Regions from separate parts of the Homo sapiens genome. Here region 2 is linked to region 1. The links come from fine-mapping of genetic effects on gene expression. Tissue or cell type: whole blood. Region 1 holds a variant in brackets; the other region holds the start of a gene. All regions are shown on one strand. Distances are between the middles of the regions.

The links. PIP is the estimated chance that this variant, and not a neighbour inherited with it, causes the effect.
Region 2: it holds the start of NADSYN1, and the variant in region 1 is fine-mapped to the expression of NADSYN1 in whole blood (TOPMed, PIP above 0.99). The same link has a PIP of 0.9 or more in aorta, blood mononuclear cells, tibial artery and visceral fat.

What each region holds. Positions count from the first base shown.
Region 1 is chr11:71,482,701-71,490,804 of GRCh38, reverse strand. NADSYN1 (NAD synthetase 1) reads right to left here. Exons shown (of 21, transcript NM_018161.5): 14 at 7,788-7,956; 15 at 6,358-6,493; 16 at 5,157-5,263. Among named protein-coding and RNA genes, the nearest start is that of MIR6754, 13 kb to the right of the region's middle. RefSeq lists enhancers at 2,093-2,863, 5,151-5,651. The variant A/C (reference allele first, on the strand shown) is at 4,311.
Region 2 is chr11:71,448,972-71,457,075 of GRCh38, reverse strand. It overlaps NADSYN1 (NAD synthetase 1), which reads right to left and starts at 3,873. Exons shown (of 21, transcript NM_018161.5): 1 at 3,695-3,873; 2 at 1,906-1,966. The coding sequence starts at 3,779. It overlaps DHCR7-DT (DHCR7 divergent transcript), which reads right to left. Exons shown (of 2, transcript NR_186309.1): 2 at 4,919-5,386. It also overlaps a transcript of DHCR7 not described here. RefSeq lists enhancers at 2,716-3,215, 3,216-3,717, 4,955-5,034, 5,155-5,204 and a silencer at 3,775-4,144.

The DNA of each region.
Region 1 (8,104 bases):
CGCAGACTCCATCAACCCTGGCCAGCCAGGGAGTCGCTTCTTCCAGGGGCCCTGAAGCCAGAAGTGTGGCATATTCAAGCATCCCGGAGAAGTCCCAGAGCAACCCGCAAAGGTGGCAGAGGCTGCAGAGGACCCAGGAGGGCCTTTGAGTGCACCAGAGGAGACGCCGGGGATGGCAGGCAGATTTCGGGGGTCACCAGCACGGAGCTGGGAGCAGTCGTCTGAACAGAGCTGAGGGACAGAGGTCTTGGGGTGTCGGGAGTGAGCAGGGACTGGACACACGTGGACACTCTGCTGCCCGGGCGGCCGCGGGCCCCTCCCCTGCCTGTCAACTCTGAGGCCTGTGGTCGGCAGAAGAATCCATCTCTCACTAAGGTGCCCACGTCCTAATCCCCAGAACCTGTGACTCTGTCACCTCTCAGGGCCAAAGGGACTTTGCAGATGGACTCAGCTGGGGACTTGAGATGTGGGAGTGATGCTGGATTGCAGGGTGGGCCTGAAATGCAATCACAGGGGTCCTTAAAAGAAGGGGGTGAAAGTGAGAGTTGAGGGAGCCCTGACTGCAGGGGAAAGGCAGAGACGCGAGGCCGCTGGTGGTGAAGACGGAGGAGGCGTCGTGAGCCAAAGAAGGCGGGACTCCAGAGGCTGGAAATGGCGGGAAACAGATTCTCTCCAGGGTCTCCAGAAGGAACCCACTGTGTCCACACCTTCACTTGAGCCAGGGGACCCATACTGGACCTGTGTCCTACAGAACTGAGGGACCATAAATGTGTGTTGTTGAAGGCACAAACTTTGTGATCCTGGGTTACAGCCGTCCTTCTCCACCCCACCCCGCTGCCAACGCTGGTGCAGGCCTCCAGGTTCTCCACGGGACTCCTGGCTGACCACCCATCTCCTCCATACCAGGCCAGGCCAAGCCCTTCCACAGTCTGAATTCCCTCAATGGTGCCCTTGACCTTGCAAGGCCTTCCAGGCTGGCCCCTGCCTATCCCACCAGATGCATTTCTTGACACTCCCAAACTCACACCTCCGTGCCTTCTCACCCTTCCTGACCCTCACTGTGGTGCAATGTCGGGGGTGTAAGACCCCCAGGGTCCCAACAGAGGGACAGGTGAGACCCTGTGCTGCCTTCAGTGAGGGCTACCCCAGTCACCCCATCGCTCCCTGTCCTGTCCCGTCCAAAGCTCCTTCAGCAGGAGCTGGGATACGGGCCAGATGGGCCAGGGGAGATGACAGTCTCCATCTTAGCACTTTTTCTCTTCCATCCCCAGTAACTGCCAAGGACTGGGGAAATCCGCCGGGGCTGACTCAGAGAGCACAGTCTGGGGAAATCCCGCAGTGCAGAGCTCAGCTCAACCTGCGACCCGTGGGGCCAGGATGCTGCCTCATCTTGGTGGAAGGAAACTCCAGCCAGGAAGTGGGGACCATGGGGATGGGGAGGCACGGTTATAGGGGGAAAATTGAGGCAGACTTTTTCTGGTGAAATCAAGACTGAACTGGCGGACTGGTGAGACTTTGAAGCCAGCAACAAGTGTGGCCATAAATTTCAATACAGGACCACCGAGTTCCAGCAGCTGTCCCCTCCTCTCGCACTCTGCATGGACCTTTCCCCCAGGCTGGTCACTTCCATCAGCTGAAATCATGTTGTTAGAAGCCTAACTTCAACACAGCCTCTCAGCTCTGCATTCCCATGCTGACCCCAACTTAACCCTGCAGGGCTGGCTTCACTCTCCCCTCCCCTCCTGCTCTCTCTGGAACCTTCTCCTGGGCCTGCCTCTGAACCCACCCCTCCTGCTGCTGTGGGCGCGCTGGCCAGGCCCCCAGCAAAGCCACCCTCCTGCCTGGTCACCTGCTCTCATCTCCTCACCAGCAACATCCCCACTGTCCTGCACCAGCAAGTCCACTCCCTCTCTACTGGTCTTTTCTTGACAGTATCTTAAGGCAAATAAACAAATGGAGACCAGTCTGGGCAACAGAGTGGAAACAAAAAAAATTAGGCGTGGTGGTGCATGCCTACAGTCCCATCTACTTGGGAGGCTAAGGTGGGAGGATTGTTTGAGCCCAGGAGGTCAAGGCTGCAGTGAGCTGTGACGGTGCCACTGCACTCCAGCCTGGGTGACAGAGCAAGACCCTGTCTCTAATAATAAAGCAAACTCCTTTTCCTGTTCCCAGTGATCTCTGCAGCGCCTATCCTGCGCCTCCCCTCCCCTTCAAAGTGAAATTTCTGGAAACAGCTGTCTCTGACGTCTCACACCTCCCTCTGCCCGACACGCCGCACACTTTCCAAAACAGCTCTGCAGGTCTTCCAGTCCCCACTCAAGACCAGGCCTTTCAGGGAGACAATGATGGGCTCTCAGTCCTGGGGGAGTCATGACTCAGGGCTTCACGGGCTCTTCTCCACCCACCCTCGCCTCCCGCAGGCCTTTATGAAACCCACTTCTCAGTAGGGCCCTCCCTGGGCAAGCTGCTTACAAACTCCCAGCTCTCCCTTCCCCTCCTTGAGCTCTCTCGGCGGACGTTTCCTACAATACACATGTTATCTGCTGGGCTATCACTGTCTCCTCCCACTTGCAGAGAACAGGAATTGTTTCTGACTCATTCACACCACCGGGAAGAAAGCCTGAGGGAGGACAGGTGTCCAACAGGCCCCTGATGAGCAGACAGGGATGCGACTGAACTAGAATCAGAAGCAATTCAACAACAGAATTACAGGGAAATTTAAAAAAATCAACACTACACATTTGAGATTCTTGCCAGAACACAGAGGAAGAGAAGGACTGGCTGTGACCCGTGAGAAGAAGGCGGCAGAGGGAGATGCAGCATGGGAAACAGAGAGAAGGGCTTCAGTACTACATCATGAGGGGAGTGTCTGCAGCCACAGGGCCTTCTGTCCCGCAGTGAGAAAGGGGCAGCTGAGGGATTACGTTTACGTTTGCTTATTTTCTTTTCTTTTCTTTTTTTTTTTTTTTTTTTTGAGACGGAGTCTTGCTCTGTCGCCCAGGCTGGAGTGCAGTGGCGCGAACTCGGCTCACTGCCAGCTCCGCCTCCTGGGTTCATGCCATTCTCCTGCCTCAGCCTCCCAAGTAGCTGGGACTACAGGCACCTGCCACCACGCCCGGCTAATTTTTTGTATTTTTAGTAGAGACAGGGTTTCACCGTGTTAGCCAGGATGGTCTCGATCTCCTGACCTTGTGATCTGCCTGCCTCAGCCTCCCAAAGTGCTGGGATTACAGACGTGAGCCACTGTGCCCAGCCCGTTTGTTTATTTTCTAAATGGCATCTAGAGACCTTCCAGCTCCCAGAACCCAATCCCACCCTGGAAAAAAATACTTGTTTCTTTGTTAACATTTTAAATACTAGAAAATGATGGACAAGAGTTGTGAGGGGGAACTCTTACAACACAATTTTATAACAGATCAAATTCTTCCTCATCTACAAAAGCAATGCAGAGCCAAAGCAAACATCAATCTCCTCAACTACACCAGAGCTGAGAATATACACCAGCCGTCACACCCCTCCTGAAAAATCAGTCCCTTACAAAGGCACCAGAGGCACCAGAAAAGCAATGGTCAAAATATGCATGAGGAGGATGAGAATTTTTACACAGTATCAGGTGTTAATTTCAAATTTCTGTAATTAGAAAAATAAAATAGGACTTAAAAATAAAAAATCAGTTTTAAAAGAGAACACATCTGCAGACAGGCAAGGATGCAGAGTGATTAAGACACTCACACTCTTTGGGAGGCCAAGGTGGGCGGATCACGAGGTCAGGAGATGGAGACCATCCTGGCTAACACGGTGAAACACCGTCTCTACTAAAAATACAAAAAAATTAGCCAGGCGTGGTGATGGGCGCCTGTAGTCCCAGCTACTCGGGAGGCTGAGGCAGGAGAATGGCGTGAACCCGGGAGGCGGAACTTGCAGTGAGCCGAGATCGCGCCACTGCACTCCAGCCTGGGTGACAAAGCGAGACTCCATCTCAAAAAAAAAAAAAAAAAAAAAAAAAAAGACACTCACGCCATAGAAAAAAGGGAGGGATAGATGGATGGAAGGGAGGAAATGTGGACAGATGGGTCGATGGATGGACAAAGGGAGAGATGGGTGGATGGATGGGTTGGGTGGACAGATGAAATGGTGAATGAATACATGGATAGATGAGTGGATAGATGGACAGATGGGTGGATGGACAGACACATTGGTGGATAAATGGATAGATGGGTGGGTGGATGAATGCATGGATGGACAGGTGGGTGGAGGGATGTGTGGGTAGATGAATGGATGGATGAATGCATAGACAGATGGGTGAATGA[A/C]TGGATGGATGAGTGGGTGAGTGGGTGGGTGGATGGACAGACAGATGGGTGGATGGGTGGATGGATGGATGAATGGATGGACAGACAGATGGGTGGATGAACGGACAGGTGAGTGGATATATGGATGGGTGGATACATAGATGGATAGATGAATGGACAGATGGATGGATGGGTGGATAGATGGATGGCCCAACTGATGGATGGATAGATGGATGCATAGACAAACAAATGAATAAATCACAAATAGTTTTTGAAATCCCTCAGCTCCTAAGGAGCAACTAAGAACAGCACAGACGAGCTGAGAGGGATAGAGGCTCACCTAAGGGAAGTGGGGAAACCAAGGCTGGAAAAGAATTTCTAGCAGCCTCCACTGCTGGACTTGAGGGGCAGCTTGAATTTTATCCAGAAAACAACAGGGAGGCTCTGAGTTTTGTTGAACAAGGAAGCAATATGAGAAGGGGAGTATTTTCAGTCCACATAAAAAATGAACTCTGGTTTGGAGGTAAAAACTAGCTGCAAAGGAATGACTTAAGACACAGTGGAACAGCCTAGAAGAAAGAGGGGAGCCTGACCATGGCAGAGGGCGGTGGGAAGATGAATTTGAGGCGCAGTAGAGATGAAGAACCACAAGGCTGATGAAAGTGGTGAGCGCCCAGAGCCACCTGCAGGAACGTGATGCTGATCCGCTCTGCCACTCGGGTTGGGTGAAATTCTAGAGGAATGATGTCATTCCAGGCACCAAACCCGCCATGAAAGGCACAGGATGATAGAATCTCACAGCGTATCACCTTCAGAGACCTGAGAGGTTCAGGGGCCCACCACCACGTGCCACTGGGCCACACTCACCTCTCATCCACGTTGGCGGATCCCAGCACGAGGAGCCCACCGTGGACACCCCGAGACCAGAGGCTCAACTGAGCAAACAGATAGGCGAGGACCATCCGTATTCGAGCCTGGAAAACACAACAGAGGAAATAACGGGTTCCCTTGCAAAGGAACACGGGGGAGACGCACACCCACAAACTCTTGAAAACAAGAAAATTAAAATAGCTTAGGAGCTCTCTAGCGTTCGGGGAACATCAGAGTCTCAGAGTCCCACAGTGTCCCGAGGCCTTCCTCTCGGGGTGGTCCCACCTCCACAGGGCTCACACAAGCTCAGTGGTGCCTTGCCTTCAAAGATGGGAGCACCCAGAGCCCGGGAGGGCAGAGGGAGCACTGGTGGCAGGACTGAGCCGTGGGGTCCCTGGGAGAAAGCTTGGCAACTGCATTTCCATCCCTTTACCACTGGCAGGAGGGGAGAGGCCACCCAGGCACAGCAGAAAGGGGACAGAGAGAGACAGGACAGATCCCAGCAGCTGGAGCCCCCGGCCTCTCTTTTCCTCTGCCCATCACGGAGCAGTCAGTCAAGTGCAGTAGCTCAGGAGGCAGACAGCGTCTGGGCTGTTCCCTGAGGATTAAAGAGACACACACTCACACACAGTCATGTGCACTCTCACACTCATGCACACCCACCCACCCACATGCTCACAGGCATGCTCGTGCACTCATGCAGACGCACTCATGCACACAACTGTGCACTCACGTTTGTGCACACTCACACATCCACACTCACACTTGCTTTTGCACAAGCACTCACAAGCACACCCACACTTGTGCATACATTCACACACTTGTACTCTCATACACTCATGTAACCTCTCACGCTCAGGCTCACACTCAGGCTCAGACACACCCTCTTGCTCTTGCACTCAGGCTCATGCACACACTCGAGCACGCACATCCTTACACCCCCGCTCTTGCTCTTACACATCACATGCTCATGCACCAACACACACACAGACCCCCTCCTTGTTAACAAGGCTGCATGACCGACGTCTTCAGTGAGGCATACAGGCTGTGACCCCAGCACTGGCTGTCCCTAGGTAACCGGTGCCATGAGCTTCATGGAGACGATGGCCCAGGTGGGGGCACCTGCACATCCTGTAGTGATTGTCCCAGTGCTCCCTGCACCCCCACCCCCAGGGGACGCCGGCCCAGGCGGGGGCACCTGCACATTTTGCAGCGCCAGGTTTTCCCTGCTGCTTCCTCCATGAGCTGCAAACAGAGGGCTCTTCCCCGTCACCAGGCTGAAGATGCCCATGACGGCCTTCACGGCTGGATCGATGTTGAGACTGATGTGGTGGCTGGAAGGAGAAGGATAGGCGTTGAAGGCAGCATGTGCACGTGTGTGCATGTGTGTGCGCATGAGCGGTGAAGCCCTGATGACCTAAAACTGACCATTGTAACCCATTTAAAGCGTATGATTTGTGGTGTTTAGCAATCCACAGTGCTGCGCAGCCATCACCACCATCTAGCTCAGAACTTCCCATCACCAGAGAAGGGAACCCCATCCCACTGGCAGTCTGTCCCCACTCCCTCCTCCTCCAGCTCTGACAGCTCTGACAGTGACAGATGCAGAGAGTGACAGACACCCTCTCTCTCTATGCCATGGCCTGTTCTGGACATTGCGTGGAAATGGAATGGAAATGGAATCAAACACCATGTGGCCTGGTGTGGCTGGCTCCACTCCCTTCATCCGCACCATGTCTTCAAGGTTTCTCCTCACTGTGTCATGTGATCATGCTCCACTCCTCTTCGTGGGTGACTAATATTCCACCGTGTGAATGGACCACAGTTTCTTCCTCCGTTCATCTGAGATGGACCTTGGGTTGTCCCTGCCTCTTGGCTTCTGTGAATGGTGCTGCTATGGACTTTCCTGAACAAGTATCTGTTCGGGTCCCTGTTTCTGATTCCTCTGAGTACATATCTAGGAGGAGAATCACTGGAGGGCATGGGGACAGCTTTTAGCTGAGCTCAACAAACAGGATGGGGAGCTGCTCATTTTCTCCTAGGAGCCATTATGGATGGAATATTCTAGATAGAACCCAGTCTTTCTTCTCCGGAAAGGTGCCCTCCTTCCACTGTCCTCACATAGAGAACTGCCCGTGGAAGAGGCAGTGAGGGCAGGGGAAGAGAAAGGAGGAGGGGTAGGAGCCAGCCTGCAGCCAACTCCCAGGACCTGCTGCACACCCTGGTGAGCACATACGACCTGCAGCCTGCACTGGGAATGCCAGGAGTGAGGGGACAGAAGGGCAGAAATTGCAGGCACCATCTGAGACTGGGGTGGGTCAGATAGGGAGGACTCACACACAGCTTCCCTGAAATCTGGCTCAAACCAAGAGAAAGTGGAGCCCTGATAAGCTCCTAGGTGCACATTTAAGCAATTGCTGATGACAGGAGAAACAAACTGGTCTATCCGTACAGTGGAATATTATTCACCCACAAAAAGGGATGGAGCACTTACACGTTTATCCACATAGTGGATGACACGATGCGGAATGAATGAAGCCAGTCACCAATGCACTCACAGGCGGAGCTTCCAGTGACTCTGAGCTCTGTCAGCCACCTGCCATGCCCAATACCAGGGACCAACTCTACCTTCCAATCTGCTGGGCCAACTCTCTGGCCCGGGTGCACGTCTCCTGGGAGGAGTTCTTGCTGGCCATGTAGCAGGTGGTCAGTATGCGTCCACAGAGGTCTCGGGGATCCTGGGGGGTGTAGCTGATCTGGTTCACGATGGTGCGGACATCAGCCAGCACTTCCTCATCTGAAAACCACCAGGACAGAATGGGTGGAAGTCACCTGAGTGTGTGGGATGTTTACATAGTTCCACCCCGGTCTACACCCCCAGGTGCCCATGCGGCTCCACCCCGGTCTACACCCCCAGGTGCCTGTGCGGCTCCACCCCGGTCTAC
Region 2 (8,104 bases), 34 kb after region 1:
GTGAGTCAGCAGCAGGAGCTGGTCCTGGGGCCATTTGGGTGGTAGCCTTCCCTTTCCAAAGCTTCCAGCACCAGCTCAAAGGAAACTGCTGACTTTTCTAGGTGAGAGGGTCTCTGGTCCATGAGTCAGCCTGCTCTAGGGCCACTGGGCCCTCCCTGTGTATCAGGTGCTGGACCTCTAACCAGTAAGAACAAGAGGCGGTGTGCTCAGTGAAGTGATGTCCCTCCTCTCCTGCCTCGGTTTCCTCTCTGTAAGTTGTTGGAATATTTCACAGGAGCCTGCTCAGCAGGTTGTAAGCTACTTGGAGACCTGCTCAGCTGGGCCCCTGTCCCTGCTGGATGCAAATATTCCATCCCGGGGGCCTTTAGTTAGACATCCTCCCACTTTTAAAATGAAACAGGTCCATATTTGGAGGAAAGAGAGAGGTGGATGTAACATTTATAGGAGAGAGAGACTAGGACGAAGAAAGAAAAGAAGACGTAAACTCTAAGCATCTGGGCAACATCAGGCCAGGGGGACTGGGCTGTCACCACTGCAGCTCCTCCAGGGCAAGCAGCAGACAGGACATGAGGATCAGGCCCCCGGACCAGCCCAGGAGAGGTCAGGCTCACGAGACGATCAGGCCTTGAGTCCAGCCCAGGAGAAGATCCGGCCACGGGGCCAGGAGAGGATCGAAGCTTTGTGATATCAGACAGCCCAGAACCCTAGATCCCTTGGCACTTAGGTGAAGAATTTCTTAAAGAATCAATCAAATGAAGACAAATTAAAGAACAAAGTAAACATTCTTGGATATTATGGGAGAAACAGCCCTATTTGAAGGTGGTATTCTAAGGAGAGAAATCAATCTAATGAAGGAAAGAAACTTGGAAGGACTTAGAGAAAGATGCCTCTGGACTCACACAAAACCTCCTAAGAGAAGACAGTTCCTGCTTACTCTAAGTCCAGAAGCAAGAACACACACTAAGGCAGGGGACAAAGACTGAAGAGGAACTTCCAGATCCCACAACGGGTCAGAGGCCTAAAGACCAACGGGAAACTAGCAGAGCACAGATGGCAGCTGACATCCAAAATGAGAAAGGACTATCGCTTACAAGAGACTTACAACGTGGCTACTCATTGTTTTGTTTTCATTTTTGTTTTTGTTTTTGAAGGGACAAGAAGGGAAATAAGCAATCAGTTTTCCTGATTTTTACAAAAAGGCATATAAGAAACGATAACCTATGCTTGCTTGTGGAAAGATTCTGAGATCACGGAATGAAAACCTGGGAATATGTCTTGGTCCTTCAGCCTGCTATAACAAAACACCTTGGACTGGGTAATTAATAAACAGCAGAAATGTATTGCTCACAGTTCTGGAGGCTGGGAAGCCCACGATCAAGGTGCTGGCAGATTTGGTATCTGGTAAGGACTGGTTGTCTCCTTCTCTGTGTCCTCACATGGTAGAAGGGGCCAACAAGCTCCTTTGGGCCTCTCTTGTAAGAGCACTAATCCCATTCATGCAGGCTCCACTCTCATGCCCTCATGACCCAATCACCTGCCAAAGGCCTCATCTCTTAATTCCATCATCTGGGGGTTAGGTTTCAACATATGAATTTTGTGGGGACGCAAACATTCAGACCACAGCAAAAGGGCAGTGGTAACACAGAAGCAGCCCAACTTTGAAACTGGCCTTCATCTGGTAAAAGTCAGTTCTTTTAATTACTCAACATGGGAATCTAGACTTATTCAGCCTCCCTGGGCCTGCCCTTGCTCAGGTGTTCAATGGCATTAACCAGGCCCAACAGTGGGTGTGGCGTGTCCACAGCTCTCAGGACTGTCCCTGCTCCTTCCTTGCCTTCTCAGCTGGGGAAAACTGATGCTGGTATCGCTAGCTGACGACCCCAGGGTGTCTGTGTCTGTTCTCACCATATTTCCAGCTCTGGTCCAAGCCTGTATCTTGCTCCTCTGTTTTTGGCAATTTCAATACCTGTAAGTACAGAGAGAAAAAGAAAATGGAGCAATTTCAGCACCTATACACTCAAAGACAGATGAAACAACCTGCTGCAGTAGGTAGGATAAAAAAAAAAACAAACAACAAACAAAAATGCTCTGTGCCTTCCCAGACGGGATGCAGTCAGGCTTCCTGTTGACAGCATGGCAGCAGAGGGCAGCATACACCTGTATACACCTGTATACACGAGTACGCCTGCACCTGCTTATACTTGCATATACCTGCTTATATCTGCAGGAAATGAGAAACAGGGAGGGCTTGCAGGTCTGACCCTTAGCACCATGGAGGAGGCGGAGGAAGAGGAAGAAGTCAGACCCTGGTAGTTTATTAACAAGGAAATGCCCAACACCATCTAGAGGAAAAAGGACTTAGAGGATTACGATCCAGCAGTGGTGCCACTGTCAGGCACCATCGGCTTACTGGTCTTGGGCAGCAGCTTCCAACAAGCACCTAGGGAGGAGAGGCTGGCAGAGTGGAAACTTAGTTTTGGCCAAGCCTTCTTCAGTTCAACTAGATTTGCTCTGAGCAAATGAGGTGAAAGCAGGTTGATATTTAAAAAATAAAAATAAAAAACCACTGGCTGCGGTGGCTCATGCCTGGAATCCCAGCACTTTGGGAGGCCAAGGCAGGTGGATCACTTGAGGTCAGGAGTTCGAGGCCAGCATGGCCACCATGGTGAAACCTTGTCTCTACTAAAAATACAGAAATTGGCCATGCATGGTGGCAGACGCCTGTAATCCCAGCTACTCAGGAGGCTGAGGCAGGAGAATCGCTTGAGCCCAGGAGGCAGAGACTGCAGTGAGCCAAGATGACACCACTGCACTCCAGCCAGGGCAACAGAGTGACAGTCCATGTCAAATAATAATAATCATAATAATAATCCAGGGCACATACTGATTAGATGCCATCTCTTGAAACATTCTGTTTCTATTGTTCCTGGCAAAGGCTCTTGCAGTCAGCAGACCAGTGCAAGACAAGCTGCAACCTGACTACACCTGCAGGCTTGCCCATTTAGGTGCAGGTGTAATAGTTTAACTTTTCATCCTCCACGGTGCGTCCATATGAACGAAAATTAGATGGTGACCTTTCAACAACCACACCCTATCTTCGAGGCCACCACGCCCGGCTGATTTTTGTATTTTTAGTAGAGACGGTGTTTCACCATGATGGCCAGGCTGGTCTTGAACTCCTGACCTCAGGTGACTTCCACCCCCTCCGGCCCCCCCAAAATGCTGGGATGACAGGCGTCTTTTTCTACTTCCCTTTCTGGGACGCCTTCTCCCACCAGGAAGGCCCACGGGGACCAGAGACCATCAATCTCTGGCCTCTGCACACCATCCCCGCCAGTGCGCAGCCATTCTGTTCAACTTAGATATCTCCGAGAATGGGCAGCTCAGTCCCAACCACGGGACCCCAGAGATATCAGAACACGGGTCCATCCCCAGGCCTCCCGCCTAAGCCGCCAGACTTTTCTTAACCGTGCCTTGTATATCGCTCGTCCCCGGGAACTATAAACACTCACTTCCCGACGAGGACCTGAGCACGTACCACTGGCGGGGTCATTGCCCATTATCTCACCTGATCCCATGCCCAGGGCCGAGAGTTTCCCAGGGCAAGGCTGTGAGCACGCCACGGGCAAGCCTGGGCCCAGCCACGGTGCCCGTGCGCCACCCCAAACCGGTGCCCCCGCCGCCCCAGACTCACTCTTTAAAATTCTTTGCAAATTGCCCTCGAAGTCCAGGGCCCACTGGTTGAGTGCGCAGGTGGCCACGGTCACCTTCCGGCCCATCCTGGCCGCAGTCGCTTGGGCAGGAGGCCAGCGGGGGACAGCAAGACCAGGGTCCCAGCGAGGTAGGCGGCTGGGACGCCGGACCTTCCGGGTTGCCCGGCCCCGCCCCCTCCCCGCCCATCCGTTGAGGCTCCGGCCAAGGAGGACTGCGGCGTCAGGCCCTGCCTACGGATCGCCCCGCCCCGTCTGAGGAGCTCACGACCGCGCCTGCGCAGCGAGGTGGCCTCAGCGTTCACGGCACCGCGAAGGGCCCCGCCCCCGCCCCGGCTCCACCCACGTCCCAGGCCCCGGCCCCGGCCCGGCCCTTGCGGGCAAACCCGTTCAGGTGCACAGGTGCAGGGGGCTCACCGCCCAGCTGCAGCACCCCTCTATTTTATCCCACACCGCCACCCCACATCCAGCTTAGCCATGTTTTATTTTAATACGGCATGAAACGTTCCAAATACACCAAAAGTGGAGAGTACGGTAGGAGCGCTCCATCGTGCCCGCGGGACAGCAGACGATAGCAATCGATTCTCCGTGCTGGGAATCCCGCCACCCTGGGCGGATGGCGCTGAATTCTTGGGAACCCTCTCCTGCCCCTTTCACTCCTGTACCACGTGTGTAAGTAGCTCAGGTAGCGCACTGTTTGCCTTTTCTGAAACTACAGGAACTGCACTTGAATGTGCTTCTGCAACTTGATTTTTTCCCCTGTAATATGAGATACGTTCTTTTAATTATTTTTCTGCAGTTTGGTATTCCATAGTGGCAGTAAAGCAGGTTTATTCAATAGCGGATGGGCATTGACGTTATTAGCAGCGTTTTGCCAACAGACGCACGCACACAGGCACTGCTGCAATTTCCTTTCCGGCAAGGTTTCCTTCGTGACCTCGTTCCGCCAGTTCCTGCAGCAGCTTTGCAGAGTAGTAGGGTTCGTGCTGTTTGACTTTACTAAATATTGCCAAGTCTCTTCTCCAGGGCGCTTGCACCGATTCACTACCAGCGGTTTCTCACTTTTTATTTTTTCACATTTCCTCTTTAGTCCACCCACGGTAGAATCCATTTTTCCCCCATATAAATAACTGCCTCATCATCGTTGCTTGAAGAGGCCATCCTTCCTTCTGTCATTCATGTTAGTTTAAAAACACACAATTCACAAATTTGGAAAAAGAGAAGGCTTTATTTCTTGTAAACGGTCGTAGCCTGCAAGGTGGCGGCCATCTGTCTGAGGCTGGGAATCTGTCTCCAGCCAAGGCCAGAGACAGGCACGTCCAAGGAGGAGGGGTTGGGGCAGGAGCGCTATGCTGAAGGGATTGGCTAAACATACATATTCAACAGGTAACAGGAGGAGCTATGAATATTCATGAAGGTGGTCCTGACACATGCCCTCTTATTGAGCAAAGCATGTAATATATGACCCATGTTCACTTTGGGGTGGAGACTTAACATTTACACATCTTACAATTAGGGCCTTTATGGCAAAACGTCTTTTCAGGACACAAAGGCATGCAGGTGCATCATCTCTCTCTATTAACGGGTCAGCTGGTCGGCATGGTCAGCTGGTCGGTGGTCTCTTATTAGGAGAAAGTCACTGAAATCAGTCTCTTGTCCAATCACAGCTGCTATGGCTGGTGAAACAGAGTCAGTTAGTTGGCACCTAGTGGAGCTGCAATTGTTTTAATATTCCCTATCCCAAGGCTAGTGTGTGTTTGGCTAATAGAGAAACAGAAAGCCTTGTGGCTCTTAGAATATAGTTTATTCTCTAAGTGTGGGTTGCCTGACTTACCCTCGCCTAGCATGGCTTTGGGTCCTGTTTATAATTTGGTATCTTATTGCCACAGAGTCCGTTCTGTCAGTCTTACGATCTCTGTTTTAACATGAATGCCGGCCAGTTGTGGTGTCCAAACTCTGAAACAGGGGGCTATTACCAGGCGCATCTGACCTCCCATCCCATCATGTCTGGGAATTCAGTGTTGAGGTTTTTCTGGTGTCCCCTTGGTCAGGAGAAGGTCCCTTTGGTCAATGGGGGGCTTAGGATTTTATTTTTACCTTATGTACATATACCCGTTTTCACATTTTGAATCACTTTTTTTCCTGTCTATAAAGTAGTGCTTGTTCATGACAATTTGGAAACTCCACAAAAGCACCAGAATGTTATACATGCTAACTTATTTAATCCTCACAGTAGTTTTCATGCTTCTGAAATCCACACGATCTGCTCAAATTATCTCCTGCCAACAATGGCTGATGCCAGGCCTGGGCAGAGAAGGGGAGGATCCTTGAACATCTGGTTGTCCCAGAAAATAAGTAAGTACTCAAAGGATGGTAGATACATGTCATATGAAAAAAGAAGCCAATTTGAAGGGGCTCCCGTTAGCTAAATACAGGACAATACAGTAAGGATCATAACTCGGTCAGCTAAATCCATTAGGGCATACTGATAAAAAATAAATCAAAGAGGAAATCCCTACAGAAGAATGCTTGCTAATAAATAATTTATTAATAAATGTTGAGGGAATGATAAAATTAGAAAATTAACACTTTGTCCCAAGAAATAAGGGATTCAGGCAAGATTCCTCATTAAATGCTAGTTCACTGGGTGAAAGGTCATTTGGGAACAGCATATTTACAGTCTCAAAGTATCACTGCACCAATTACTCATTAATAACAAAAGGAAAAATGGAGACTTCTGGCAGAAACCACGGAGCCCCACTATCAATCATGGAGCACAGTGATATGTTGTCTTAAAAAAGAAAATTTTAGGACTCTTGAAATTTATTAGGTCAACTTGGGCAACAGAGCAAGATCCTGTCTTTAAATAAATAAATAAAAATAAATAAATTTATTATGTCAAGAGGGAAGTTAAGTCCTAGAAACTGGGTCACATAGCATGTTTGTAATTTTGTCTTTTAGATTATAGGCTGTTTTTCTTTATCATTCATGTTTTATAAATGACTAGGAGAGACCACAGACCAGGCCTGCTCCCCTTTTAATTACTGATCTTTATTATAGATTGTCTCTTATTATCCCGTACTTAGACCAGACTCCTACATCTTCAGTGTAAAATGTTAAATATACCTTCCACCTAAAAAAGACCACCTCAGCTGGTCAGATTATAACTTTATGCATAAAAAGATGTTAAAATTCTGTTAAACTTCCCTAAAATTTGTCTACATAAATGATCCCAAACATCTACAGTTCAAAATACTGATTTCCATTCTTTAAAATCTGTGCTTCCCAGGCAGCCTGTCCTCAAACTTTATACACTTAAATAAACTCTCTTTAAGCTAAATTCTGACCTGTTTGGTTATTTCAGGTTGACAGCCTTCTAACAAGATAAAACATGCTCTATGTAGTATATTATCCTGCCAAAAAAAGTGCATAGCCTGAATGCACAGTGTGGCTCCCTGATTAGATCCTGGGGTTTAAAAAAGGGCTGTAGGGCAGAGCTTCACACCTGTAGTCCCAGCACTGTAGGAGGCCACAGTGGGTGGATCGCTTGAGCCCAGGAGTTCGAGACCAGCTTGGGGAACATAGTGAGACCCCCCCCCCCACCCATCTCTACCAAAAAAAAAATAGCGTGTGGTGGTGTGCTCTTGTAGTCCCAGCTACTCAGGAGGGTGAGGGAAGAGAATCGCTTGAGCCCAGCAGTTCAAGGCTGCAGTGAGCTGTGATCGTGCCACTACACTCCAGCCTGTGTGACAGAGACCCCCGTCTTAACAAAGCAAAACAAAACAACAATAACAAAAGGGCTGTAAAGGGCATTATTGGGACAACCGCGGGAAACTGGAGATGGAAAATAGATAACAGCATTGAACTGATGTGGTCATTGTATTTTGGTAATATAGGAGGTTCTTGTTCTTAAGGAGTTGGATACCGAAGTATTTGGGAGGGGGGTATCACGGTATCTGCAGCTAATGGTGGGGGCTGAGTGGGGAGGAAAAAAGAAAAATACACATATATAAACACAGAGGGAGAGAAATGAAACGTGGCCAGCTGCTCACCCCTGCTGAACCTAGGAATCTGCGTGCTCACTTTACGTTCAACTTGTTTGTATGCTGAACATTTTTCAAAACAAAAAGGTGCAGGGAAAAAAGAAAACATGATGTCTCTCTGAGGGCCACAGAGACGTGGCAACCAGATCGCTCTGACAGTAAGGCCTGTTACCCGAGCTGTTGGGTGTGGGGTCAGCAGACACCTTCAGCTGCCCCCTCCTCCAGGGCTGCCTCGCCCCAGGTCATGCCCTCGCAACGTGGCCCGTGCGTCCGGCTCGCACTGTGGCTCAGCTTCTCCCTTTGCCCAGTCCTGCTGCTCCCTCCCCTCCCGTCCTCGCACAGGTGTGCCCC